Linked DNA regions of Homo sapiens. The protein of the gene in region 1 purifies or fractionates together with the protein of each later gene. This does not show direct contact. Each region holds a gene or a part of one and is shown in the gene's direction. Other genes may lie near its edges.

The links.
Region 2: the proteins of B4GAT1 (region 1) and ADCY6 purify together in Homo sapiens (co-immunoprecipitation; 3 studies listed by BioGRID and IntAct, with this or other methods). This does not show direct contact.
Region 3: the proteins of B4GAT1 (region 1) and SCAP purify together in Homo sapiens (co-immunoprecipitation; 3 studies listed by BioGRID and IntAct, with this or other methods). This does not show direct contact.
Region 4: the proteins of B4GAT1 (region 1) and PTPN2 purify together in Homo sapiens (co-immunoprecipitation; 3 studies listed by BioGRID and IntAct, with this or other methods). This does not show direct contact.

What each region holds. Positions count from the first base shown.
Region 1 is NC_000011.10:66,344,865-66,351,699, reverse strand, and holds B4GAT1 (beta-1,4-glucuronyltransferase 1), read left to right. Parts: upstream 1-4,070; 5' UTR 4,071-4,154; coding exon 4,155-5,210; intron 5,211-5,459; coding exon 5,460-5,651; 3' UTR 5,652-6,326; downstream 6,327-6,835. UniProt on the Homo sapiens protein: Beta-1,4-glucuronyltransferase involved in O-mannosylation of alpha-dystroglycan (DAG1).
Region 2 is NC_000012.12:48,765,679-48,772,101, reverse strand, and holds the end of ADCY6 (adenylate cyclase type 6), read left to right. Parts: intron 1-64; exon of another isoform or gene 65-127; intron 128-128; coding exon 129-392; intron 393-642; exon of another isoform or gene 643-1,131; coding exon 1,132-1,336; exon of another isoform or gene 1,337-1,475; intron 1,476-1,869; exon of another isoform or gene 1,870-2,014; intron 2,015-3,040; coding exon 3,041-3,165; intron 3,166-3,385; coding exon 3,386-3,511; 3' UTR 3,512-5,908; downstream 5,909-6,423. UniProt on the Homo sapiens protein: Catalyzes the formation of the signaling molecule cAMP downstream of G protein-coupled receptors. Functions in signaling cascades downstream of beta-adrenergic receptors in the heart and in vascular smooth muscle cells.
Region 3 is NC_000003.12:47,423,920-47,430,946, reverse strand, and holds part of SCAP (sterol regulatory element-binding protein cleavage-activating protein), read left to right. Parts: intron 1-2,276; coding exon 2,277-2,434; intron 2,435-3,279; coding exon 3,280-3,500; intron 3,501-3,684; coding exon 3,685-3,790; intron 3,791-4,777; coding exon 4,778-4,950; intron 4,951-5,335; coding exon 5,336-5,462; intron 5,463-6,901; coding exon 6,902-7,014; intron 7,015-7,027. UniProt on the Homo sapiens protein: Escort protein required for cholesterol as well as lipid homeostasis.
Region 4 is NC_000018.10:12,811,211-12,818,237, reverse strand, and holds part of PTPN2 (tyrosine-protein phosphatase non-receptor type 2), read left to right. Parts: intron 1-872; coding exon 873-1,082; intron 1,083-3,882; coding exon 3,883-4,035; intron 4,036-7,027. UniProt on the Homo sapiens protein: Non-receptor type tyrosine-specific phosphatase that dephosphorylates receptor protein tyrosine kinases including INSR, EGFR, CSF1R, PDGFR.

The sequences.
Region 1 (6,835 bases):
ACTTGAACCCAGGACGCAGAGGTTGCCGTGAGCCAAGATCGCTCCACTGCACTCCAGCCTGGGAAACAGAGCAAGAACGTCTCAAAAAAAGAAAAAGAAAATCAATCAATGTAATACACCACATTAATAGAATGAAGAGGAAACACCAAGTGATCACCTCAATTTATGAACAAAAAGCAAGTGACAAAATCCAACACGCTTTCAAGATAAAAAGCATGTGACAAAGTCCAACACTCGTTCAAGATAAAAAGCATGTGACAAAGTCCAACACTCGTTCAAGATAAAAATGCTGAATAAACAAGGAATAGGTGGAAACTTCCTTCACCTGATAAAGGGCATTTATGAAAAATCCACAAATAACATCATACTTAATGGCGAAAGACCTAAAGCCTTCCCCCAAAGATCAGGAACAAGAGAAGGATACGTGGTTTCACCGTTTCATCTCCTCAACATTGTACTAGAAGTTCTAGCTAGAGCAATTTGGCAAGAAATGAACTTCTGCACTGGGGTGGGAAAAAAAATGGCAAGAAAAAGAAACAAAAGTTAACCAAACTGAAAAAGAGGTAAAACTATTCATAGTCACAGATGACATAATATATACATATATAGAAAATCCTAAGGAATACATGCATACACACAGAGACACACACACACACACACACAGACACGTACACACATACACAAACTTTTAGAGCTAATAAAGTCAGCAAAGTTGCAGAATTCAAGATTAACACACAATAGCCTGGCTCAGTGGCTCGTGCCCGTAATCCAAGCACTTTGGGAGGCTGAGGTGGGTGGATCACTCGAGGTCAAGAGTTCAAGACCAGCTTGGCCAACATGGTGAAACCCTGTCTCTACTAAAAATATAAAAATTAACTGGGTGTGGTGGCGCACGCCTGTAGTCCCAGCTACTAGAGAGGCTGAGGCAGGAGAATCACTTGAACCTAAGAGGCGGAGGTTGCAATGAGGTGAGATCACTCCACTGCACTCCAGCCTGGGAGACAGAGTGAGACTCTGCCTCAAAAAAAAAAAAAAAAAGTTAACACACAAAATTCTGGTTGGGCACAGTGGCTCATGCCTGTAATCCTACCACTTTGTGACGCTGAGGCAGGTGGATCACCTGAGGTCAGGAGTTTGAAACCAGCCTAGCCAACATGGCAAAACCCCGTCTCTACTAAAAATACAAAAATTAGCCGGGTGTGGTGGCATGCACCTGTAGTCCCAGCTACTCGGGAGGTTGAAGCTGGAGAATTGCTTGAACCCGGGGGGCAGACGTTGCAGTCAGCCAAGATCGCGCCACTTCACTCGAGCCTGGGTGAAAGGGCGAAACTCCATCTCAAAACAACAACAACAACAACAAAAATTCAGTTATATTTCTATACACTAACAATGAACAACGTGAAAAGGAAATTAAGAAAACAACTCCATTTACAATAGGATACAAAAGAATAAAATACCTAGGAAAAAATTAACCCAGGAAGTAAAAAACTTGTCCACTGAAAATACAAACACTGGCTGAGCTTGGTAGCTCACTCCTGTAATCCCAGCACTTTGGGAGGCCGAGGTGGGCAGATCACCTGAGGTCGGGAGTTCGAGACCAGCCTGACTAACATGGAGAAACCCTAGTCTACTAAAAATACAAAATTAGCTGGGCATGGTGGTACATGCCTGTAATCCCAGCTACTCCGGAGGCTGAGGCAGGAGAATCACTTGAACCCAGGAGGCAGAGGTTGCAGTGAGCCGAGATTGAGCCATTGCACTCCAGCCTGGGCAACAAGAGCGAAACTCTGTCTCAAAATAATAATAATAATAATAGGGCTGGGCGCAGTGGCTCACACCTGTAATCCCAACACTTTGGGAGGCCAAGGTGAGTGGATCACCTGAAGTTAGGAGTTCGAGACCAGCCTGGCTAACATGATGAAACCCCATCTCTACTAAAAAATAATACAAAAAATTAGCCAGGCATGGTGGTGCACTCCTGTAATCCCAGCTACTCAGGAGGCTGAGGCAGGAGAATCACTTGAACCTAGGAGGCAAGGTTGCAGTGAGCCAAGATCGCGTCATTGCACTCCAGCCTGAGCAAGAAGAACAAAATTCTGTCTCAAATAATAATAATAATAATAAATAAAAAATAAAACACTGAGGAGGTCAAAGAAAATCCACATGGCAGCATGTCTGACTTCTGAGCCTCCAGTCTATAAGGCCTGTGCTGAAAGGATCTGCACTTACTTTTCTCCTCTTTACAGCCAAGGTCACCAGTGGAAACTCTCAAGGACAATACCTGTGTCTCCTCCAAGGCCCATCCCTCGTGCCTAACACAGTTCCTGGCAGAGACCAGGTACTCAGTGTGTGTTTTTGCTCTGGGCTGCAAAATAAAGGTTTTCTGATCACTCTTCAACTCAACAACCTTGGCACCCTACTGCCTGTGGAATAGTGGGACAAACACTTTATCCTTATTTGAAGCCCTGCCCAGTCTGTCCTGACATCCCAAGATTCAGAGCACTCTGCCCTATAGGGGCCTCCCTGGCTCAGCCTAAAAAGTTGAGTAATATACGGTAATTGATTTAGCAGTGGCAGTGTCTGCCCTTCCCACGGCCTCTCCTGTTCTAAAGAGTCCACAGATGAATTAATCCACAAATACTTATTAAGAGTATAGTGGCCTGATATTGGAATGTTCAAAGCCTTCTGCTTAAGAGTTTGTGTGCGGCCGGGCGCGGTGGCTCACACCTGTAATCCCAGCACTTTGGGAGGCCGAGGTGGGCGGATCAGGAGGTCAGGAGATCCGAGACCATCCTGGCTAACACGGTGAAACTCCGTCTCTGCTAAAAATACAAAAAATTAGCCGGGCGTGCTGCATGCGCTAGTAGTCCCAGCTACTCGGGGCTGAGGCAGGAGAATCGCTTGAACCTGGAAGGCAGAGGTTGCAGTGAGCCGAGATCGCGCCACTGCGCTCCAGCCTGGGCGACAGAGCGAGAATCCGCCTCAAAAAAAAAAAAAAAAAAAAAAAAAGAGATTGTGTGTGTTGGGGAGCAGGGCATGTGGACACAAGGTCTCCGCCCTAGGAGAAGTGCTGGAGAGTAGGACAAGTACCACTACTTCGGACGGGGAGGGCGATGCCTCCAATGGGGGGCTTCCCTGATTCCTGCAGATCATACGTTGGCCCCCAACTTCACACTGGCCAGAATCCCGGTTCTAGTCTTTTCCGTGCCACCAACCCCTGGGCCCTCTTTCTAGAAGGAAAGAAAACACCTTTGGCCTCTGCCCAGAGCTACAGACACCTGAAGTAGGAGCAGGCAGGAGATGCGTGGTGGATAAAGACCAGAGAGACTTGGGATCGAATTCCACTCTCACCCCCAGTTCAGTTTTCTTCAGCTTGCTGCTCCACAGGCAGGATGTGAAAATTTAGATGCCTCACCCCTCGCACCTCCAGCTTGCTGCTCCAAATAGGCAGGATGTGAAAATGTAGATGCTTCCCCCCCAACCTCTATAAAACAGGGCCGACGAGGATGGGATTCGAACCCACGCGTGCAAAGCACAATGGATTAGCAGTCCATCGCCTTAACCACTCGGCCACCTCGTCCTACGTGACAGGTTTGTCCACATTCACTTATCTCTCATCTACTCCGCACCTTCCAAGCACTACCACGTAAGTCGCAACGCAGACCTCTTCGGACACAGGGAAAGAAGAAGCCGCGGAAGGAAGGGAGCGTTTTGATTTCCTTTCTGCTGAGCCCGCGCCATCCTTTACCACGCTGCAGCCGAGCTCTGCCGCGGTTTCCCTCCGAGTCCGGCCGAGCGCGCCGCGCGTTCAGGGCGCGCCCGGTCCAGGGTGCGCGCGCCGGCGGGGAGGGAGAGGAGTGCGTCCCGGGAAGCCGGCGGGGCCCGGGCGGGCGGGCGTCTGCACGGCGCGCGGCCGAGCGGCGGGGCCGTGGCTCCTCCTCCCTCGTAGGGGGCGAGCCGGCGCGCCGGGGGCTGGGGGCGGTGGCGGGCGGCGGGCGGCGGGCGGCGGGCGGCGGGCGGGGCGGCGCTCGGGGCTCGGCTGGCCTCGGCTCGCCTCGGCTGCGCTCGGCAGGCTGCGGTAAATCCGGGCTTGCGGCCGCTGGCGTAGTCTGTGGCCGGGTGGTCGTTGCTGCGCGCCCCGAGCCCCGAGAGCCATGCAGATGTCCTACGCCATCCGGTGCGCCTTCTACCAGCTGCTGCTGGCCGCGCTCATGCTGGTGGCGATGCTGCAGCTGCTCTACCTGTCGCTGCTGTCCGGACTGCACGGGCAGGAGGAGCAAGACCAATATTTTGAGTTCTTTCCCCCGTCCCCACGGTCCGTGGACCAGGTCAAGGCGCAGCTCCGCACCGCGCTGGCCTCTGGAGGCGTCCTGGACGCTAGCGGCGATTACCGCGTCTACAGGGGCCTGCTGAAGACCACCATGGACCCCAACGATGTGATCCTGGCCACGCACGCCAGCGTGGACAACCTGCTGCACCTGTCGGGTCTGCTGGAGCGCTGGGAGGGCCCGCTGTCCGTGTCGGTGTTCGCGGCCACCAAGGAGGAGGCGCAGCTGGCCACGGTGCTGGCCTACGCGCTGAGCAGCCACTGCCCCGACATGCGCGCCAGGGTCGCCATGCACCTCGTGTGCCCCTCGCGTTACGAGGCAGCCGTGCCCGACCCCCGGGAGCCGGGGGAGTTTGCCCTGCTGCGGTCCTGCCAGGAGGTCTTTGACAAGCTAGCCAGGGTGGCCCAGCCCGGGATTAATTATGCGCTGGGCACCAATGTCTCCTACCCCAATAACCTGCTGAGGAATCTGGCTCGTGAGGGGGCCAACTATGCCCTGGTGATCGATGTGGACATGGTGCCCAGCGAGGGGCTGTGGAGAGGCCTGCGGGAAATGCTGGATCAGAGCAACCAGTGGGGAGGCACCGCGCTGGTGGTGCCTGCCTTCGAAATCCGAAGAGCCCGCCGCATGCCCATGAACAAAAACGAGCTGGTGCAGCTCTACCAGGTTGGCGAGGTGCGGCCCTTCTATTATGGGTTGTGCACCCCCTGCCAGGCACCCACCAACTATTCCCGCTGGGTCAACCTGCCGGAAGAGAGCTTGCTGCGGCCCGCCTACGTGGTACCTTGGCAGGACCCCTGGGAGCCATTCTACGTGGCAGGAGGCAAGGTGCCCACCTTCGACGAGCGCTTTCGGCAGTACGGCTTCAACCGAATCAGCCAGGTGCTCATAAGGGAGAGGGCAGGGGTAATGGGGCAGGAGGGGTGGTGGGATCAGGGAGTTATGAGGAGTGGCCCTGGATGGAAAGGAGGCAATGAAGCAGGAGGGATCATAGTTCAGGAGGTGGGTGGATGGTGTGGAAGATCCAGGATACTTCCAGAGGGGTGAGGACGCTGGACTGTGGCTTTAGGGAAGTCAGTCTCAGGCCTGTCAATGTCATCAAACTTTGCTAACCTGTCTTTCCTCCTGCAGGCCTGCGAGCTGCATGTGGCGGGGTTTGATTTTGAGGTCCTGAACGAAGGTTTCTTGGTTCATAAGGGCTTCAAAGAAGCGTTGAAGTTCCATCCCCAAAAGGAGGCTGAAAATCAGCACAATAAGATCCTATATCGCCAGTTCAAACAGGAGTTGAAGGCCAAGTACCCCAACTCTCCCCGACGCTGCTGAGCCCTTCCCTCCCCTAATCTGAGAAGTCAGCCTCTTGGCTCCTCAGGCCACCATTTAGGCCTGACTGGGGTAAGAAATGTCGCTCCACTTTACAGAGGTAGCTGTGGTGTTGAAACACTGGACTTGGATATGGGGTGCTGGGATCGATTCCTAGCTTTACCACTAACTAGCTGTGTGGCCTTGAGTAAATCCCGTTACCTCTCTGAGCCTCGGTTACCCTGTCTGTAAAAAGGGAGGTGAGAATACCTACCTCACGGAACTGTTGGGAGGCTCAGATGAGATGCTATATGTGAAAACATTCTGTAAGCTTCGTACAAATGTGAAGTATTAATATTATCGCAGTATTATTGTTGTTATTATTATTGTTATTATTAACAATCTTGGGTGGGTAGTAGGAGAGCAAAAAGTATGAATGGGATGGAGCTAAGAAGTCTGAATACTTAATGAAATGGACTTTTTGGAAAGAAATCAGATGAAGGCATAAAATTTAGTTCTTAGCTCTTGAACAGAAGCCTAAAATTCCTGGTTCTCTCAGGGCTTCGCCTTCAAGGGTTCTGGAGGAGGGAAGGGTCTGCAGGTTCCATGGGTGACAGCCTGAGATCTGTCCCTTCAACGGGCTGGGCTGGGTATGTGCCTACCGATGACAATGTGTAAATAAATGCGTGTTCACACCCACAGCTGGCTCCGTTACTCTCCTGAGCTGGGGGTGGGGGGATCGGGGCCGGCTTCTCCCCTTGCACGCCGTGGGGAGATGGCCGCGGACGAAGGGCACCGTCTGCAAAGCACTGAACCATCAGGGCCTTCCCTGCAGGCCGAAGGCCTGCGCGAATGTCGGCCAGTTACTATGGAGACCGGCCCGCGGTATCCCAGCATGCCTCGGGACCAAACTGTCCAACTGTGAGCATCCCCGACGGTCGCCTCCTGATGACGCACACGGAAGCACCGATAGGCTCTGCCTCCCGAAGAAAAGGGAGCCGCGCAGCGCCTACGGGAGTCCGGCGGCAGCAGCCGGTACCGGCAACCACGGGCAGCTCTCAGGGAATCTCCGTCGTGAGGCCAGAGGCTCCAGTCCCCGCGGTGCGTATCGTCATGCATGGCTTTTGGTTCGCCCTCTCCGGTTAGTCGAGCAGGGCCGGCACAACCTCCTCCTCCGAGGCCGAAGCAGAGATTTAACCGGCCTGACG
Region 2 (6,423 bases), on another chromosome or scaffold:
TTTAGGCCTCATCTGTCTGGGCCTTTCTTTCTCTATGTGATTCCCTCTTATCCGCACTTCCAAGCCTTGGCCACCACACCTACCCCTTGTGAATGTCGGGCAATGGGTGATGGGTGTGGTGTCCACAGGCAACAGGGGAGAAGGAGGAGATGGAGGAGCTACAGGCATACAACCGGAGGCTGCTGCATAACATTCTGCCCAAGGACGTGGCGGCCCACTTCCTGGCCCGGGAGCGCCGCAATGATGAACTCTACTATCAGTCGTGTGAGTGTGTGGCTGTTATGTTTGCCTCCATTGCCAACTTCTCTGAGTTCTATGTGGAGCTGGAGGCAAACAATGAGGGTGTCGAGTGCCTGCGGCTGCTCAACGAGATCATCGCTGACTTTGATGAGGTACTTTTCCAGTTGGCTGGTGGTGGCAGAGAGTGGGGGGTACTTGGAGACCAGGGATTGGAATGGGTGAGTGGAACTGGGAAGAGAGAGAGAGATTTGATGGGACCCAGAGTCATCAGGGGTAAGGGTATGCACAGTGGAGGCAGAGGCAAGAACCCATGAAGGTGTCAGAGGCAGCAAGGGGGTCAGCCCTAGTGGGGCAGGGTCATCACTGTTGGGGAGCAGGGGAGGACTTGATCTGTAGGGGGATAGGATAGGTACCAGGTGGATGTCACTGAAGAAGAAGGCAATAGTCTGTGGACAGAACCTCATGAGACCAACCAAGCAAGATGGTCCTCTGAATAGAGAAAATTGAAGCAAAATGTGAGGTAGTGTCCTGAACATCCAGATCAGGAATGGGCTGTTCACTGTTCTGGAGGGAAGTCACTTGCTCACTCTGGGACTCAGTATCCCAAAAGGTAAGGATTGGAGAAATTGCTTAATATTGCACTTGTGGGTCTGTGTTCTGTGAGTGAGCTACTGGAGGGACCTTCTGAAGCTGTATGCCCAAGTCCTGCCTGGAGTCCTAGGCTGCCTGTTTTCCCAGCTCCTCAGTCTTACACTGATAGCAGCAGCTGGAAGGGGGCTCTTGAGACAGGGAAGTGGGGAAGGCAGCCAAGGCGTGGCAAGAAATGAGTGTTGGGGCAGGGCTGGGTCTGGGGTCTTTGCCTTGACAGCCAGGTCTCCTTGTGTTGTTCAGATTATCAGCGAGGAGCGGTTCCGGCAGCTGGAAAAGATCAAGACGATTGGTAGCACCTACATGGCTGCCTCAGGGCTGAACGCCAGCACCTACGATCAGGTGGGCCGCTCCCACATCACTGCCCTGGCTGACTACGCCATGCGGCTCATGGAGCAGATGAAGCACATCAATGAGCACTCCTTCAACAATTTCCAGATGAAGATTGGTAAGAGGGCTTTGTTGCTTGGCGGGTTTTCCCAGGACTTTTTCCAGGTGAAGCTGGGATTATAGGCTGGGGATGGGATCACAGATTTCCCATCAGGGCTCCTGTGGGGTTTTCTTCCCTCTGACCTCCTATATCAAGTCTGATATTAAGAACAGAGATCATTAGGCACTGTCCTATAAATTTTTGAGCATATTTTAATCCTGATACTATTATCGCCTTTCATTGGATAGAGACTGACTCTCAGAGAGATTAAATAACTTGCCCAAGGTCAAACAACTAGTAAGTGGCAGAGCTGGGATTAAAAATCAGGTTTATATAAACTTGAATACTTCTGTCCTTATCTGTGACCAGTCCAATAAGAGGTATTTCCTCTCAAATGAACTGGTGGATGGGAGTGGTTAATAGCATGGCTACTAGAGATGGACTATTTGGTTTGAATTCTGGCTGCTCCATTTACTGGCTTATTTGAGAAGTCTTCTAACTTCTCTAAGCTTCAGTTACCTTATCTATAAAATGGGGATAATAATACCTACCTTTTAGAGGTGTTGAAAGGATGAAGCCATGCCGGGCGCGGTGGATCATGCCTGTAATCCCAGCACTTTGGGAAGCCGAGGTGGGCAGATCATGAGGTCGGGAGTTCAAGACCAGCCTGACCAACATAGTGAAACCCCTTTTCTACTGAAAAAAAAAAAAAAAAAAAAATTAGGCCGGGCGCAGTGGCTCACGCCTGTAATCCCAGCACTTTGGGAGTCCGAGGCAGGCGGATCACGAGGTCAAGAGATCAAGACCATCCTGACTAACACGGTGAAATTCCGTCTCTACTAAAAATACAAAAAATTAGCCGGGTGTGGTGGTGGGCGCCTATAGTCCCAGCTACTCGGGAGGCTGAGGCAGGAGAATGGTGTGAACCCGGGAGGCGGAGCTTGCAGTGAGCCGAGATGGTGCCACTGCACTCCAGCCTGGGTGACAGAGCGAGACTCTGTCCCCCCCAAAAAAAAAAAAAAAACAAAAATTAGTTGGGTGTGGTGGTACATGTCTGTAATCCCAGCTACTCGGGAGGCTGAGGCAGGAGAATCTCTTGAACCTGGGAGGCAGAGGTTGCAGTGAGCTGAGATTGTGCCACTGCACTCCATCCTGGGCAACAGAGCAAGACTCCATCTCAAAAAAAAAAAAAAAGAAAAGAAAGGATGAAGCCAGGTAAAATGCTTACTAGAGTGGTTGACATGGAATAGGCATTCAGGAGATTACTGTTATAGCATGGCTGTCTTGACTCAGGGGAGCTCCTAAACTGAGGTGCTCAGGTCTTTGGGTATTTTTATTTGTTTTTTGGGTTTTTTTTTTTTTTTTTTTTTGAGATGGGGATTTGCTCTGTACCAGGCTAGAGTGCCGTGGCACAATCACAGCTCACTGTAGCCTCAAATCCCAGGCTCAATCAATCTATTCTCCCACCTCAGCCTCCTAAGTAGCTGGGACTACAGGCATGTACCACCATTGTCCAGCTAATTTTTGTATTTTTTTTTTGTAAAGATAGGGTTTCACCATGTTGGCCAGGCTCGTCTTGAACTAGATTGTTCTTTACAACCAGGAGACTTGTCCTTTTTCCATTTTTTTCTCTGGGTCCTTCTACCAGTGCCAGGAGGTGGGATGACTCCCTGGGTTTACCCTGGAGCATCCACTAGTCTCTTGCTGTTCTCTCCACCTCAGGGCTGAACATGGGCCCAGTCGTGGCAGGTGTCATCGGGGCTCGGAAGCCACAGTATGACATCTGGGGGAACACAGTGAATGTCTCTAGTCGTATGGACAGCACGGGGGTCCCCGACCGAATCCAGGTGAGGGGGATATGAGCAGGGGCTGGGAGGAACATGGGCCCGGAGGGCTTCCACAGGTGTCTCTGCAGTCTGCTAGGACAGGGGTAGGGTGGCTAGTGTTCTGTGTATGGTGGGGCAGGGACTGGGGGAAGGGAGCTAGCCTGACTAGAGAACCCCTGGGCCCCTGCAAATGCAGCAGGAAGGATTCCAGGCTAAGCGGGCTCCCCTCCCACTCCCCCAGGTGACCACGGACCTGTACCAGGTTCTAGCTGCCAAGGGCTACCAGCTGGAGTGTCGAGGGGTGGTCAAGGTGAAGGGCAAGGGGGAGATGACCACCTACTTCCTCAATGGGGGCCCCAGCAGTTAACAGGGCCCAGCCACAAATTCAGCTGAAGGGACCAAGGTGGGCATTGAGTGGACTCTGTGCTCACTGGGTGGAGCTGTGGCAGGGGGCACTGAGCCTCCAGACCCTGCTAACCACAAAAGGGAACATCCCAGCAGGCTGTGCTTGGATCATGCTCGTCTGCCCTCAAGCTGGAAAACAAGGGGCTACCTACCGAGAGGATTATGCAAGTGACTTTCTTTCTTACTTGGGGTAGGGCTGTTCCCTCTCCAATCTTCCAGCCTTTGGGAGCAGGGGAGGGGTCAGTAGCAGAAGCAGAGGGAGGCCTCTTGCCTGAGGGATTAAAATGGCAGCTTGCCATGCCTACCCTTCCCTGTCTGTCTGGGCAGCAGGTTCAGGGCTGAGCCCTTCTTTTCCCTCTTTTTTCCTGGGAATATTTTGTACAATATTTTGTACAAAGACAGGCATGAGGAGTGCCTATTCCATGCTTGCCTTTGCAATACCTGCATCCCCAGCACTGGTCCTGGGCACTTCCCCACCCCAGCCAGGTGTCCCTCCTATGCACAGAGCAGAGGAGGGAGAAGCTCTGGGGAGCCAGCTTTGGCCATATTTCAGGAGAATGTTTCCATGTGCCAAATCTTAGTCCCATGATCTGTCCCCAAAGGGGAACAAAGGGACCTCTGACAGCTTAGATTTAGCCCCAGTTCCTGCACGCTCCAGGGAACGGGGTGTCTGGCCTCACTGGTACTGTGAAAAATGCTCAGAGAGCAAGCCTGTGTGTGGGGATGTCAGGTCAGGAGCTGGAAGTTCACCTGCAGGTGCCAAAGAGCAGGCCGGCCAGGGCTGGGGCAGTGCCAGACTCTGATCTGAGGACCCCGTCGGGGTCCAGATCAGGTCACTCTGCCCCAGTGCTCTCTTGCTGTCTGCTGACAAGGGGGCATGGAGCATCTCTTCCTCTTCTGTTGCCAAATAGAAAAGGGTCAGGGCATGGAGAAAGGTGACCCTGATCCCAAACCTGCCCTCCCAAGTCTCTGGTGTTGGGGAGGGCCCGTGTGTTTGTGTAACTGTGTGTGCATGTTGGTCTTTGTGTGCATATCTGTTTTCCAGGTCTATGTGAGTCCTTGTGCTCCTGCTCCTCAGCTCTCCACCCCAGGTTGCCTCTCTCCTGTGGGCCTCTGTCTTCTGGGAATAAAGCAGGGTTTCCTACTTCAGGGGATGTAGAGAGATGCCCAGGTTGCACAGGAGTGGGATGGGGTGTGGTAGCAAAAGGAGGGAGAGGAGTCCTTTTTGTGCCAAATCCCTAAGTGCCGTTCGGGGGCCATGTGTGCAGCATGACTCTCCCTGTCTGTGGCAGGGACCCAAGCGCTTGCTTAAGCCCCAGTGCTCCATGCCAGCACTTGAACTGTCTGGGGTTTGATGGACAGAGGCTGAGGAATTTCCTGGCTTCCCCAGATAGTGTCCTGGGACATGGTATGCTTTGGGGCTGGGGTAGCATGGAATCCCTCTGAGGACCTGGATACTGGTACTACGGGGTGGGGAAGAGGAACCTTAAACTTGGCTTTCCCCAGCCTTCAGCCTGAGTCTAGCATGTTTCTAGCTCCCCAGTCCCTTGTGAAGCCTTGAGGGCTGGCAGAAGGGTTAGGAGGTTGAACTCTAGATTCCCTTCCTGTCTTTGCCTTCCTTTTACCCCTTTCCCTGCAACCTCCTTGACTCTGGCCTGAATTTGTTGGTGCCTCAGTTTCTCTGTCTGTACCTATTTAAGCCAAAGGCACTAGCCTGAATTTTGCTTGAAGATCACTTTGTCTTGGAAATGACTAGAGAGGCAGAGGAGAAGGGTTTCCAGAGTTGCTAGGTTTGGGAGTGGAAGGGGCAGGCAGTGCACTTGCCCCTCCTCATGCCCCTTCTGACACCAGCTCCCTGTGGAGGCCTGGTTTCTGGGTAATGCCTCCCTTGGGCATCTTCATGCATCAACCAAATGGGCCATCAGGTACTTCATTAGTCATGGCAGAAGGAGGGGAAAAGACTTGTTTTCCAGACAGAAAATCTACTCCCCTGTCCCCAGCCATATCCCTGGATAGGAAGGGATAGGAAGAGACTACTTGGTGCCATGGGGTAGGGGTGAGGGTATAAGTAGATCAGAGTGGGAAGACCTCAGCCTTGGGTGGCTTGTCTCTGCTTCTTGCCAGGTGGGAGGGCCTGTCCACACCCTGGATCCCCGTACCACAGTGCCAGCCATGCCCTTCCCCTGGGCTACCATTGTCCCTTTCCTCACCCAGTTGGTAGAGGAGTCAGGAGGTGGGAGGCCGTGGGCTTTGGTTTTATAATGTAACCACTGTGGGGGTGGGGGAGGATGGTGAACCATGTATTTCAGTGAAATATTTAATATATTTAAATATCAATAAAATCAAACTCTTTGTAAAATTCTCTGTTCTCTGTAGCTGTTCTGGGCCCTGGGTGGGTCAGAAGTGACAGAGCCTGGTGTAGGAGGCGACCTCCTGCCCCAGGGCTCCGTGGGCCTCTTGTCTGTGGTCAGAGGACTTCCTGTGGCTTTCTCCCTGCTAAGGAGAAGCTGCAGTATCTTCAGAGTGTGACTACTCAAGGCCTTTCAGCATCATGAGCTCCAGTGTGTGCCTTCCCAGATTTGTGTGTGACCCCTGCCATGCATGAAGCCGGCGGTTCTTTCCAGTGCCTTGGCCCCTCACAGACCTCTCACTCCAAGGTCTGGCTTATTCAGGAATCTCCCACACAGCAGCTCTCACAACAATCTGGACACTGGAATCACTCCCATCCTGACCCCACAGCTCCCCCCGTGCACACAAGCAACTTTTAGTCCAGTCTGTTTACTGTGCTTTCTCCATCTCCTCCTCCCATTAGTCAGCCATCGGAACTGGGAAACCTCCTTCTTTCCCCCTCTGCACTCTTGCCACAATTCATCT
Region 3 (7,027 bases), on another chromosome or scaffold:
TTGGTCAGCATCTTGGCCCTTGCCTATGCTGTAACCTGGAGTACTGCATTGGTGAGTGGCTCCATGGCCTCCCTTTCATCCACACGCATGCCCCTTGGAGTTCCCGACTGCAGCCCAGGCGTGGAGACAGCCCCTCATCCCTCAGCTGGGCTGGGCCCTGCCCCCTTCAGTCCACACCTCGCAGTACACCGCTGTCTAGGGCCATGTTTCCTTGTCTCCAGTTGTCACCAACTCCCGGGGAGTCTTTACAGAGCACTGCTTTCATCAGGTTGCCCCTTCACCTCAGAGACACTGGGCTTTGCTTTGTCAACTGATTAAAATCCTGACAGCTCAGTCAGGCTTCAGTCTAAGCCTGCTTGTCATCTTCCTCGTAATTTCTGTTATCCCCTGACAGGTTTCCTTGGTGCAGATGTCCAGGCCTTCTGTGCTCTCAGCATCCCTTGCAACTCACATTCCCTCCTGCTCCTCTCCTACCTGTTCTTTTCTAACCTTATGGCTCTACTCAGCTTCTCCTGGGCCATAACTCTGCTGTGGCTGACCCAGCATGTTTTGGGGTGCTCCGCGACATGCCTGTTACTGAGGGTTGCATATGTGAACACTCTTGTCATTTACATCCCTGTTAAGCTCTTGAAAGGTAGATGGCAGATTCTAGTGAGAAAAGTATGTGATATTTAGTGAGGAGACCTTGGTTTGAGTCCTTACACCACCCTGCCTGGAGTGTGAAGCTCTAGGCAGGCACAATGCCTGAGCCTCTCCTTGCTTCTCATCAGGCTGTTGTGAGGGTCAGATGAAGTGAAATGCCTGATTGTTCATTGTTAATATTTCTGCTAATCTTTCAGACACTGTTTGTATGCGTGTGTGGTGTGTGCATACATCTTGATGCTGCAGGGTGAATGTCGTTATTCCTGTTTCACAATGAGGAAATTGAAATCCAGAGATGTCAAAAGTGTTTTCAAGGCCATATGTTTGGAAAGCTGTGATTTAAAATTGGGTCCTTTGATCTTCAAAACCCGCTACTCTGCTGCAAGTGACAAAACCTGAATCAGTAAGACAGGTTACATGCTTTGGGGAGTGTAGAGTCTATAGTGCGGTCAGCAGACATGTTCCATAAAGGGCTAGATAGTAAACATTTAGGCTTTGCGGGCCAGACGGCCTCTGTTGCAGCCATTTGACCCTGCTGTTGTAGAGTGAAAGCAGCCATAGACAATAGTAATGGTAGGGGTGTGGCTGTGCTTCAGTAAAAATTGGAAGTGGAAAAACAGGCACTAACCAGCCTGGGCAACATAGTGAGACCCCATCTCTACAGAAAATAAAGAAGTTAGCCAGGTGTGGCACTTCGGGAGGCCAAAATGGGAGGATCACTTGAGCCCAGGAGTTCGAGACCAGCCTGGCAACATAGTGATACCCTGTCCCTACAAAACATTTTTGAAAATTAGGCGTGGTGGTGGTGCACACACCTCTAGTCTCAGCTACTTGGTGGGTGGGGGTGCTGAGGTGGGAGGATCTCTTGAGCCTGGGAGATTGAGGTTTCAGTGAGCCATGATTGGGCAATAGAGCAAGACCCTGTCTCAAAAAGAAAAACAGGCATGGGCCCTGATTTGGCCTACAGGCCATCGTTTGCCTACACCTGGTCCCACAGTGCTTTGCCCATAGTAGATGTGTTATTGAGCAAAAGAGGCTCGCTGCCCAATGTGCTAGAAGCCAATACTGTGACACCAGGATTTGGGGAAAAGAAAAGCTTTATATTGAAGGTTGACTCCCTAGGAGACCGGAGTCCAGCTCAAATCTGTCTCCCTGTGCTGGCTTTAAGGCAGTAATTTTATTAGGAAAGGTTTAGAGGGTGGATACTAGGATTAGCAGATGATTGATGGAAGGAAGGGTGATTTCTGGGAAGTCTTTGAGCATGCCCAGTTATCTCTTGATGCCACCTCACAGGTCCCATGTGCAAATTCCGGGGGGAGTTAGTATGAAACATGGCAGTGGAAATTCAGGCTGTGACATCGGCAAGCTCATTCTGCACAACTCCAGTCGGCCATCTTGGTTCCAGCTTATTTCAGCCAGTTCTTTTATCTCATAAGCGGAGGGAGTTTCTGGGTTTCAGCAAATTGTTTCTTTTCTTATCTGCCATCCTGCAAACTCAAGAACTTGTATTAGTCATTGGTTTCTTTAACTCTGTGGGGCACGGTTTCCAATGCCCATTAAATCCCTTGAATTGGACCGTCTTTCTTCTTCCTGTGCTCAGCTGCCCTTTCTGCCCTCCCTCATTTCTTCTGCAGTATGTGGGTGCCCCGGTGGCTTATGTCCAGCAGATATTTGTGAAGTCCTCAGTGTTTCCCTGGCACAAGAACCTCCTGGCAGTAGATGTATTTCGTTCACCTTTGTCCCGGGCATTCCAACTGGTGGAGGAGATCCGGAACCACGTGCTGAGAGACAGGTACCCCTCTCAGGGACCCTGGCCTCCCTGAATCCCATTCTGTACTGAAGGGAGAGTTACAGTCCTCAGTGTAACTGCAGTGAGCCAGTCAGCTCTGCAGAGATAGAACAAGCAAGAAGGATGGAGGGTGAGCTAGCCTTGAATTTCTCAGCATCCTTGTGGGTCTACGGTGGCTGCATTCCGCTTGGACCTATGCAGATGGCACACACATAGCCTTGAGTCTCATCCTTACATCTCAGATGGAGTCAGTGTCCACTGTGCTAACTCATGACCCACATGGCTTCCTGCCTGTGGGTTATGGTGTGAATGTAATGGTGGTGTCTCTGCCGACGAGAAGCAAGCTCTACCTGGGGGTACCTTCTGAAGCCCCAGCCCAAGTCGTGCTCCCCTGCCTATCAGTGGGTCCCTGGGTTATGCTGGCTTGGCATACAATGTGTGTAATTGGCAAGCTGCATCACTGCCAGGTTTTAGTTAGCTAGTGGCGTTGACAGATATTTTGGTGAACTAAATGAAGCCCCTAATTTACCCCGGTCCCTGCTCATCCACTGAACTGGCCAGGGTGTTTTAGTGGGTGGGGTTGTGCATGCTCTTATAGTACACTTGCCCGTCCTCAGAGCTGATGGGCTTTTGGGCTTCAGATGCACTTTGAAAGTCAGACAGCCACATGTTTAGGTTATTGGCCACCTGGAAGTACTTCCCCCTGCTGCCCTAGTGGTCAGGCTCTTTGGCGATACCAGAGAGCAAATATGGGGCATTGAAGAACAGACAGAGGATGTCCCCTAAGTACAGCAGGTCTGCCCTGTGGTGGCAGACACAGCAGGTGCCTTGTCCTGTCTCCTGTGCAGCTCTGGGATCAGGAGCTTGGAGGAGTTGTGTCTGCAAGTGACCGACCTGCTGCCAGGCCTTAGGAAGCTCAGGAACCTACTCCCTGAGCATGGATGCCTGCTGCTGTCCCCTGGGAACTTCTGGCAGAATGACTGGGAACGCTTCCATGCTGATCCTGACATCATTGGGACCATCCACCAGCACGAGCCTAAAACCCTGCAGACTTCAGCCACACTCAAAGGTAGCCCCAGTACAAGTTCCCTTCAGACCTGTAAAGGTGCCCATTGGTCACCGTCTTTTTGATGTGTGCTTAGGCAGATCAGGGTTTACCCTTTGTTTCCCAGGGTGGGGGTGAGAAAGGGGTCCTTGGTGGCTCTGCAGTAGCTGTCATTTCTGTGTCAGTACCTGCTGGTTTCTGCTTGCAGACTTGTTATTTGGTGTTCCTGGGAAGTACAGCGGGGTGAGCCTCTACACCAGGAAGAGGATGGTCTCCTACACCATCACCCTGGTCTTCCAGCACTACCATGCCAAGTAAGATTGACAGTACCCTGGGCTCTTGACTGGTCTGCTGGGTGACATGAGGCTTTGAGTAGTCCCTCTTCTGGTTAGAGTGTTCTGAATGCCCCCTGGAAACTTGGGAGAGTTTCCAGGCCTCCTGTTGAATGTTTACATCCCTCAGACTAGATGATGCTGTCTACCACATTTTAATGGGGATGACCTGACAGCTGGTTAAGCATAGGGGACTAAGGTAGGGCTGGCGGTCTCAGTGTCCTGGTGCCTCCTCTGGTCTCTCTTGAGCCTAGGGCAGGCATCCCCAGCTGGTTACTACTGAGCACCCTATATGGCCTGTGTCCTTCCCAGTGGGGCACTGCAGGCAGCTCCCCAATTGGCAAGGGCACTCGAGGTGCTTCTGATCGGCTCTCCTAGGCCTCTGGCAATCAAGAGTGTTGGAGGCCGGGCGCGGTGGCTCACGCCTGTAATCCCAGACTTTGGGAGGCCGAGGCAGGCGGATCATGAGGTCAGGAGATCGAGACCATCCTGGCTAACACGGTGAAACCCCGTCTCTACTAAAAATACAAAAAATTAGCCGGGCGTGGTGGTGGGCACCTGTAGTCCCAGCTACTCGGGAGGCTGAGGCAGGAGGATGGTGTGAACCCAGGAGGCGGAGCTTGCAGTGAGCCCAGATGGCGCCACTGCACTCCAGCCTGGGCGACAGCGAGACTCTTGTCTCAAAAAATAAAAAATAAAATAAATAAATAAATAAAAAAGAGAGTGTTGGAGTAGGTCCGGAAAGGGAGACAAAGAAAGGAGCAGGGGGAGCTCCTGAGAAAACTTTGTCCCCTTTGTGATTTTCCCAGTGCCCCTGGAGACTATAGAGAAGCTCAGGCACCATAGAGAAGTTCCCTTTCAACACAGGGGCAGGAGGGAGGTCCTGATGGACCCTCTGTCCGGGGATTGTCTTTGTCCCCAGAACCAAGAGCAACACTTCCATTTACCCCCACCCTGCTCCTTGACCAGGTTCCTGGGCAGCCTGCGTGCCCGCCTGATGCTTCTGCACCCCAGCCCCAACTGCAGCCTTCGGGCGGAGAGCCTGGTCCACGTGCACTTCAAGGAGGAGATTGGTGTCGCTGAGCTCATCCCCCTTGTGACCACCTACATCATCTTGTTTGCCTACATCTACTTCTCCACGCGTAGGTTCATGGCAGGGAGGCTGAGGGCTTTCTCCAAGCTAAACGGGCATTTCCATGTCACCTGCTTCCCTGGCTCTGGAGGTGGCTTGGGGTAGAGAGATAGAACACACCTGGTGGTCATCAGAGCTAGGGCTTTGTCCCCCAGCAGGGTCTTAGGAGCTTGGGTGGGGCCGGGGCTCTTCCCACTTTCAGCCCCTTCCTGGGTTAGGGTTCCTAAAAGGTGTACTGTGTCCATGACACTGGGAAGTGCTTGTGCCTGTCCCTTTCCTTTGGTGAAACCAGGAGTTTTCCCTTCCTCGACTGTCAGGGCAACCTACTCCCGGGAGCCCCAGTGGGCCGGGGGCTGGGGGAGGGGCCGCCCTGATACGCCCTCTCTGCCCTCCAGGGAAGATCGACATGGTCAAGTCCAAGTGGGGGCTGGCCCTGGCTGCCGTGGTCACAGTGCTCAGCTCGCTGCTCATGTCTGTGGGACTCTGCACACTCTTCGGCCTGACGCCCACCCTCAATGGCGGGTAGGTCCCTAGCAGGCTCCACTGGGCCACAGGGTGGGCTCAGGCCAGAGAGCCTTGCACTTCTGGGTTCTTGGCCTTCCCTGGACTTTGCTGTGACCTCACGTCTTCACATTGTTGTTTTTGACATTTAAGAGGTACATTTTCTTCCTCTTCTTTGTCTGGCTTGTATTCATACTTGTGTTTGTATATAGCATATCTAGCTATAGTGAGTGTCCATATGTACAAAAGTGCATATTTGTGGGCTGGGTGTGTATATAAGGGGTGTGTGTTGGTATGTTTGTGTATACATGAGTATGTATTGCATGTGTGTAGTCGGATTTGTGTGTCTGTGTTTATGTATTCTATATACACACACCACACACACACTGCAGCTTGATGGCTTAAGCCACTGGAGGTGTGAGATAGAGAAGAGAACATTTTTTTTTTCATGATTAGAACATTTAAATGCCTAATGAAATAGGTCATTTTAGAGGAAGCTCTTTGGAAGATATGAGCACACTGTAATTTGTCGCCTTTTTCACTGATGTTTACTTTCCCCTTGCCACTCCTCTCTGAACCTTAGTCTGGAAGCCCTTCCCTCGGCTTGTCCTCAGGCTTTGATCTTGGCTCTGGCTAGGCCCGCCTGCCTGTCTATTAATGGTTATTAATGGATTATGGATTGGCCTGTCCACCACTTTGGCCCATCAGGCTGGTCGTATGAAAAGCGACGTCGTATTTTGTTTCTGGTAGTTTCGTTGCTCTTAGATACCTGCTCCCTTTCCTGAGCTTGACACTGTTAAACACCACCCTCCCCCATACCGTCTGCCATACCCTTCACAGGGCCCTCCCTTCCTTCGGCTCCAAAGCAGAGGTCCTGCAAGGTATAACTTGGCTGGCGTTCCTCGCACATAGACTTTCTTAGGGTTTGCTGCGGGGAGTGTGGGACAGTGGGCTCAGATAGCTGGTAGAGCTTTGTGTAGGAACAGTCGTTCTTCTCCACACACAGCTTCTCAACAAAGGTGAGTGGGCCTTCAGGATGGTTTCATCTCCTTGCATTTAGCTGTGATGGGTCCACCCAGAGTTACTGGTGTGGGTCTTGGCAGCAGTCATTGTCTTTAGCCAGCAGTCTTCTCCTGGGAAGGGCCAGCAGAAGTGTGGTCTAGCAGTGGCGCTGCACAGCTCTCCCTGAGGGGCCTCTTCCAGCCCTCCTGTGCTGGATGGCTAGAGACAGGATGGCTGCTGGCCCCTCTGCAAGGCTCTGGAGCCTGCCTGAAAGCTGAGTGCTGTGTAGATGCAGGTCTTGTTGGGTGAGGTGGACAAGGGAGGGTTTCTGCCCAGCACCTGTGGGAGTCACTCAGCAGCCCCCATGACAGGCTGGAAACCCCACAGCCTTCCTGAGGGCCCCAGTCTGTTGGGAACCACCACAACACTGTCCTCACCTTCTCCTTCTCTGTCCCCAGCGAGATTTTCCCCTACCTTGTGGTGGTTATTGGGTTAGAGAATGTGTTGGTGCTCACCAAGTCTGTGGTCTCAACCCCGGTAGACCTGGAGGTGAAGCTGCGGATCGCCCAAGGTAACGCAGTGGG
Region 4 (7,027 bases), on another chromosome or scaffold:
GAGATTATATTTAAAAAATAAACTTTGAAATTCATAAAAAGGAAAATGTTAAAGAATGTAAAATTATACTGGTAGAAAAAAAATTTTTTTTTTTGAAGATGGAGTTTCACTCTTGTTGCCCAAGCTGGCGTGCAATGGCACGATCTCTGCTCACTGCAACCTCCACCTCCCAGGTTCAAGCAATTCTCCTGCCTCAGCCTCCCAAGTAGCTGAGATTACAGGCACGCGCCACCACGCCTGGCTAATTTTTTGTATTTTTAGTAGAAACGGGGTTTCACCATGTTGGCCAGGCTGGTCTCGAACTCCTGACCTCAAGTGATCTGCCCACCTCGGCCTCCCAAAGTGCTGGGATTACAGGCATGAGCCATTGCACCCGGCAGAAATTTTTTAAAATAGAAAAAAATAGCCCATTCATGATACATGAATTAAAGAAAATATTGGTAACATGTATGGTAACAGATTAGTAGCTGAGAACCCAAAGGCTGCCCCAGGTTGCTTCAAATCCTGGTTCTGCCATGTTCCAGCTGTGTGACCTTGGGCAAACTATCTTACCCTTTGTTTCAGTTTCCTCATCAGGAAAATGGGCTTTAATAGGATTATTGTGTGGATTGAGTTAATAAGTAAAGTGCTTAGAACAGGCCTCCAAAATAGTAAGTGTTGTATGCGTTAGCTATTATTAATACATCACAAATTTCCACTAAAGAAAATCTTCCCTAGTTTGTATATGGGATTGTCAGAAAACAAATGGAAAAATCATAGTATAAACAGCCTATATGGCTTTAAAGAATTATATAAAACACATGATCTTTCTGAAGTAGTTTTTTAAAAGAAAAAAGTTAGAACTAACTTCTCCCTTGATTTTCACTTTTTAGAGTGGTGAAACCAGAACAATATCTCACTTTCATTATACTACCTGGCCAGATTTTGGAGTCCCTGAATCACCAGCTTCATTTCTCAATTTCTTGTTTAAAGTGAGAGAATCTGGCTCCTTGAACCCTGACCATGGGCCTGCGGTGATCCACTGTAGTGCAGGCATTGGGCGCTCTGGCACCTTCTCTCTGGTAGACACTTGTCTTGTTTTGGTAAGTGCTTCTTACGATCTCATTTTAATCTCATTGATTTTTTTTTTTAAATTGCTTCCACTGGCAGTGAATAAACTCTGATGCTGTATCCCAGAACTGAGGTTTTTCAACTTAAACTTCTACTTTTGGAAAAACCTAAAAATCTCATTTCCACCGTTGCAACTGCCTCTTATTCATGACTGGTAGGAATGTATCCATGATGATTTTAGAGATCCCTAAGAAGGTGTTTTTCTTCCTGGTAGCTTTATATTACAGAAATAATAGGTCTCTCCCCCACATTTTTTCAAATATAAATTCATATGTAATATTGAATTCCTTCCTCCTCAGACAGATACTTTATCTCATTTTTTAAATTTAAAAACTAGGGATAATGATAGACATACTTCACAGGGTTCCTGTGAGAATTCAATGAATTAATACATTAAGGAGACTTAGAAGAGTCCCTGATGTTTTCTGAGCATTCCATAAATGTCAGTATTACTGTTACTCCCCTGAGGTTCCTGTCTGTGCCCCCAACGGCTAATTCTTTCTCCACCAGTCATTCCCAGTCCCAGCCTGTATACAGCCTAGATCTTTTCTTCTCTTTTTAGGACCTTTATTTTTTCGTTACTTGGGATACATGAAACTTCTGTTTGCCCTTATACTTCTCCTAACTTCTGTCTTTACTTCTTCCTCTTATTATAGGATCAAACCCAACAATAATACTGTCTGCTTTGATTTCCATGCCATCTACTCCTTCAGTAGTCCCTGCAGCTTAGTTTCTGCTTTCTGAGCGTGTTCTAAGATTATCAATAACCTAAGCAGTTTAGCTTGTCCTGGTATTCAGTCTGGTGGGGATTTTGTTTTTGTCTTTGTTTAGACAGAGTCTTGCCCTGTCACCCAGGCTGGAGTACAATGGTGCAATCACTGCTCACTGCAGCCTCAACCTCCTGGACTCAAGTGATCCTCCCACCTCAGCCTCCCAAGTAGCTGCCTGCACCACCACACCCAACTAGTTTTTGCTTTTTTATTTTTAGTAGAGACAAGGCCTCACTATCTTGGCCAGGCTAGTCTCAAATTCCTGGGCTCAAGTGATCTTCTTGCCTCAGCCTGCCAAAATGCTGGGATTACAGGTTTGAGCCACCACGCTTGACACAAGACTGGTGTTCTTAACCTTGACTTTAAGGCCCTGTATTAGTCTCTTCGATGTTTCTGTAAAACGTAGCTATGCTTCATTGCAGTTATGTCAGCATTCTTATGCTTTCCACCATGACTGCCAGCACAAAGTAGATTCCCAGGTGAATTAATATGATGATGCTTTTCATTGTAAACACACACACAAGGAGCTTGATCAATGGAGTGATACTCTTGGAAGGAGTGATACTCTTGGAAGAACATTTCAGACGTTGCATCTCTAATGAAAGCTAGGAATTGGGAACGGTTGAGTCTTAACTAAACATCTGTATTACTTTACCACTCTGCGTATATATAGTATACTTCAATCAAAATTAGATTGTTACATCAAAGTTTTAAAACTCTGGTGATTATTTTGTTAATGACACCTGTTCCCTGCCAACTATAACTTCAACAATTTTTTTTCTTTTATTTTTGGTGAGCCTGGGTGTGGGGATTCTAACACTAGGTCAGTAGTCCAGAGCAGTGCTGTAGCTCAGCAGTGTTATCGTGGATCTGGGCTTTTGCTGTCTTTTCCACCGTCTTTCTTCATTTTATTTTATTATTCTATTTATTTATTTATTTATTTATTTGAGACGAAGTTTCGCTCTGTTGCCAGGGTGGAGTGCAGTGGTGCAATCTCAGCTCACTGCAACCTCCGCCTCCCGGGTTCAAGAGATTCTCCTGCCTCAGCCTCCCGAGTAGCTGGGACTACAAGTGCGTACCACCATGCCCAGCTAATTTTTGTATTTTTAGTAGAGACGGGGTTTTACCATGTTGTCCAGGAAGGTCTCAATCTCTTGACCTCATAATCTGCCCACCTTGGCCTCCCAAAGTGCTGGGATTACAGGTGTGACCCACCACATTTTTATTTATTTATTTATTTATTTATTTATTTATTTATTTATTTATTTATTTTTGAGATGGAGTCTCGCTCTGTCGCCCAGGCTGGAGTATAGTGGCACTATCTGACCTCACTGCAACCGCCGCCTCCTGGGTTCAGGCGATTCTCCAGCCTCAGCCTCCAATGTAGCTGGGATTACAGACATGCGCCGCCACACCCAGCTAATTTTTGTATTTTTAGTAGAGATGGCATTTCGCGATGTTGGCCAGGCTGGTCTCTAGCTCCTGGCCTCAAGTGATTTGGCCTCCCAAAGTGTTGGGATTACAGGCATGAGCCATCATGCCTGGCCTCTTTTCCACCATTGTTAGATGGGTGCTGTATATCCAGACATCGTGTCTGTAGTGCAGACATGAAGGAGGCGGAAGGGGAATGAGCAGAAAGGTTGACTCCTGCCATGACTTTTAAAAAAAAAAATAGTCCTTATACTAGCCAGAACTGGTTATAAATCCTTCCTTTAACCAATGACTGGCCAGAAGGAATGAGATTACTATGATTGGTTTGGAATCAGTTGTGAATCAGCTAAAGAATCAAAGTCCTCCAACTACTTGAGGGGTTGAGATGTGGGGAGGGATGAGTAGGCTGGGATAGTTGTTGTGTACATAACAGTTATAGCTGGAGGGTTAAATTATCGTTGTTCTTTCAGAGGAGAAAATGCATAGCAAAAATCTTAGCAATGATCTTGCATTGATTCTGTTTCCTGGGTTCCAATAACAAGACTTGTCTCATTTTTTGCCTTTCTTGCAGATGGAAAAAGGAGATGATATTAACATAAAACAAGTGTTACTGAACATGAGAAAATACCGAATGGGTCTTATTCAGACCCCAGATCAACTGAGATTCTCATACATGGCTATAATAGAAGGAGCAAAATGTATAAAGGGAGATTCTAGTATACAGGTAAACTTCATACAGGTTTTAAATCATATCTATTTGTTAAATACACATAGCATCAAATAACTGCACTCCACTTGAGCCCTTGTCTTTGTTTCAAAGAGTGTATTTGAATTTTTGTGGTAAATCCAGCTGGCTGTCTTAAAATTGTAAAATTTTAGCTAGCTTCCTCATATATACTCAGCCTCAGGTTAAATCCTGTGTGTTACTTAAAAGCCCTTGTAGAAACAAGATTTCATTAAAGAAACTGAATTTTTCATTTTGGGGGTGGTTAATCTTTTAATTATTAAAGTAACTGGAAACTTGAGATACTTTTGCCTTCATTAAACACTGATACTTGGTTTATGTGATATTTGACTTTATAACAACAAGCAACTTGAATATTTATGGCAGATATAATGAAATTCCAGCAAAATGTTATATTCTTCTGGTTGGTGGCTTTATTCTCATTAAGCTATTTTTACTGCATATTTGTAGAACCTAAGTTCAAAGACTGATCAGAAACTTGTGTTATGTACTAAGTTAAAATGTAAAATAGAAACAACCACAGACTCCATTTTTTGTCTGGTTTAATCACATAGTATTGGACATAAGCAGATACTGTAAGTTGATGCATAATATAAGAAGATCGACTGTCTTTTCATTATGTTTCTCATGTGTGAACATATTTACTAGCACTTTCATTTCTCTGATTACTAGCCAATATAAGAATGTAAATTAGATCGGACCATTGGTGTCAGAATAAAGGTTTATTTAAAAAGATTTTTTCCAAATCTTTAAATAGCATTAAAATATTCTTAATGCACAGAAACATTAGGGCACTCAGAGCCAAAATACGCAATGTTTGGGAAACTCAGCCCATTAGAACATGTCCTGCTTCAGACGCCAGACTTTGGGAACACTGGATTTGCCAGGGTCACTTTGGCAGTGATCAGTGATTTAGGTGAAGTAAAAGTTATTTCAGATGTTTAAGATTAGGAAAATTTCCCTTTCTAATCACAGTGAGCTTTCACCAACTTAAATCTGGAGTTCAAAAAGAAAAGTAGTTCAATCAGATTTCCCCATGCCTTCACAGCCTGCATGCCGCCTTCCCTGCCTGCTTCCTGGCTGTGATGAGACGGGTAACTGGGAGGGAAATGTATTGTCCTTTGGATTGTGTCTTTCCTACCACTGCTTTTTTTTTTTTTAAGTTTTGTGTCTTTAGTTTTAGAATACATACTTTATCTGAGGGTGGATCTTTTTTTATCACAGAGATGAGTTTTTCTGGACACACTTTTTTGTGGAGTCTTTGACAGTGCAGTTTGTGGCTAGGAAGGATTTTTTTTCTGTTAATTTATCTGGTGTGATATTGTCCTCAGGCTCTCAATTCTAAGGCATTTTCTGCCCCTATTCCAGATAGGATATTGGAAACATCTTTATCCTTCAGGTACTCAGGATCAGAAAAGCATGCTGCCCATTCCAAGGGGTTAATTTCTGCAGAAATGGTCTTGGCATTCTGAGAATCTTTTTTAATTGGTGCATTTAGACCATCGGCATATGAAGTGATTACTGATAAAGTTGGATTAATAAATACATACCACACATGCTACTGGTTTTTTTTTCTTTTTTTGAGACGCAGTTTTGCTCTTGTTGCCCAGACTGGAGTGCAATGGCACAATCTCGGTTCACTGCAGCCTCTGCCTCCCAGGTTCAAGTGGTTCTCCCCACTCAGCCTTCCGAGTAGTTGGGATTACAGGTGCCTGCCACCACTCCTGGCTAATTTTGCATTTTTAGTAGAGATGGGGTTTCACAGTGTTGACCAGGCTGGTCTCGAACTCCTGACCTCAAGTGATCGCCCACCTCGGCGTCCCAAAGTGCTGAGATTACAGGCGTGAGCCACCGCACCCAGCCCAAAGTGATTGTATCTTAAGTCTGTAAATATGTGTAATTATAATCTTAAAGCATGTATTCATTTACAGAAAACTTCCAATGACTTTGACATTCCTATAGACATATAGGCTATTTGCAATTGCCTTTCAGCACAAGGTCAGGCATAAATACTTAAGCTGGTTGCTGGTATTACCACATATTTATTAGCATATTCCCAGTATTGATGATGACAGTTAACCCCCCAGAGTAAATATCTAGTTTGGCAATTCAGAACTAATGTTGTAAGATCTCTAGCTGGTAATTTGATATTACTAATAAAGTATTAAATGTAAATGATAAACTTTTAACAAATTACAGAGGATTTGAAGTTTAATTGCATTGCTTAAAGCTTTCTTCAGTGAGAGAAATGGGTAGAGCTAGGGTTCTAGGCATTGTGTGGGGGGCATGGCTCCTAGTGGCAGTGACTCATGGGTTGGTGCAACGTGAGCACAGAATTAGAAAGAAAGATGAAACAGTACCAGGCCTCAAAATGAGAGCTCCTTTGAGGTTATAGTTTAGTGAAATGTAATTCCTTGGCTTCACCAGTCAGCATTAATGACCTGAGGCAGGTGACTCAGGAGTGCTGGCTCCCTTGTGTGTCACAGGGAGGACAGAGACGAGTGAGTTTGCTGAACCTATATAGGCATGAGTGAGTTTGCTGAACATAGGCACGAGTGAGTCTGCTGATCATAGCCATGAATGAGTCTGTCGAACATAGCCATGAGTGAGTTTGCTGAACATAGCCATGGCAAAATGACATTGTTGGGTTTGTGGGGTTTTTTTAATTCACTAGCATTAAATATCTCTTTTATTTCTCTCTCTGCCGAGTGCTTTCCTTGTTGACGTATTCTGAATTTGTTGCATATTCTGGGAAGTGGTCCAGTGAGACTTGATTTTTGGTGTCATCTTATTTGTTGACATTGTTGAGTGTTGTCCAGCTATAAGGCCAAGTTACATAACTAGGTCTCAGTCAAGAGTGGAAACTTCAAAAATTGACCAGTGTAAATTCTGGAGACAATTTAACATTTTTGTGGGGTACTTTGTTGAACACACATCTTTATAAGGGGTCACAGCATAGTCAACCCAGACT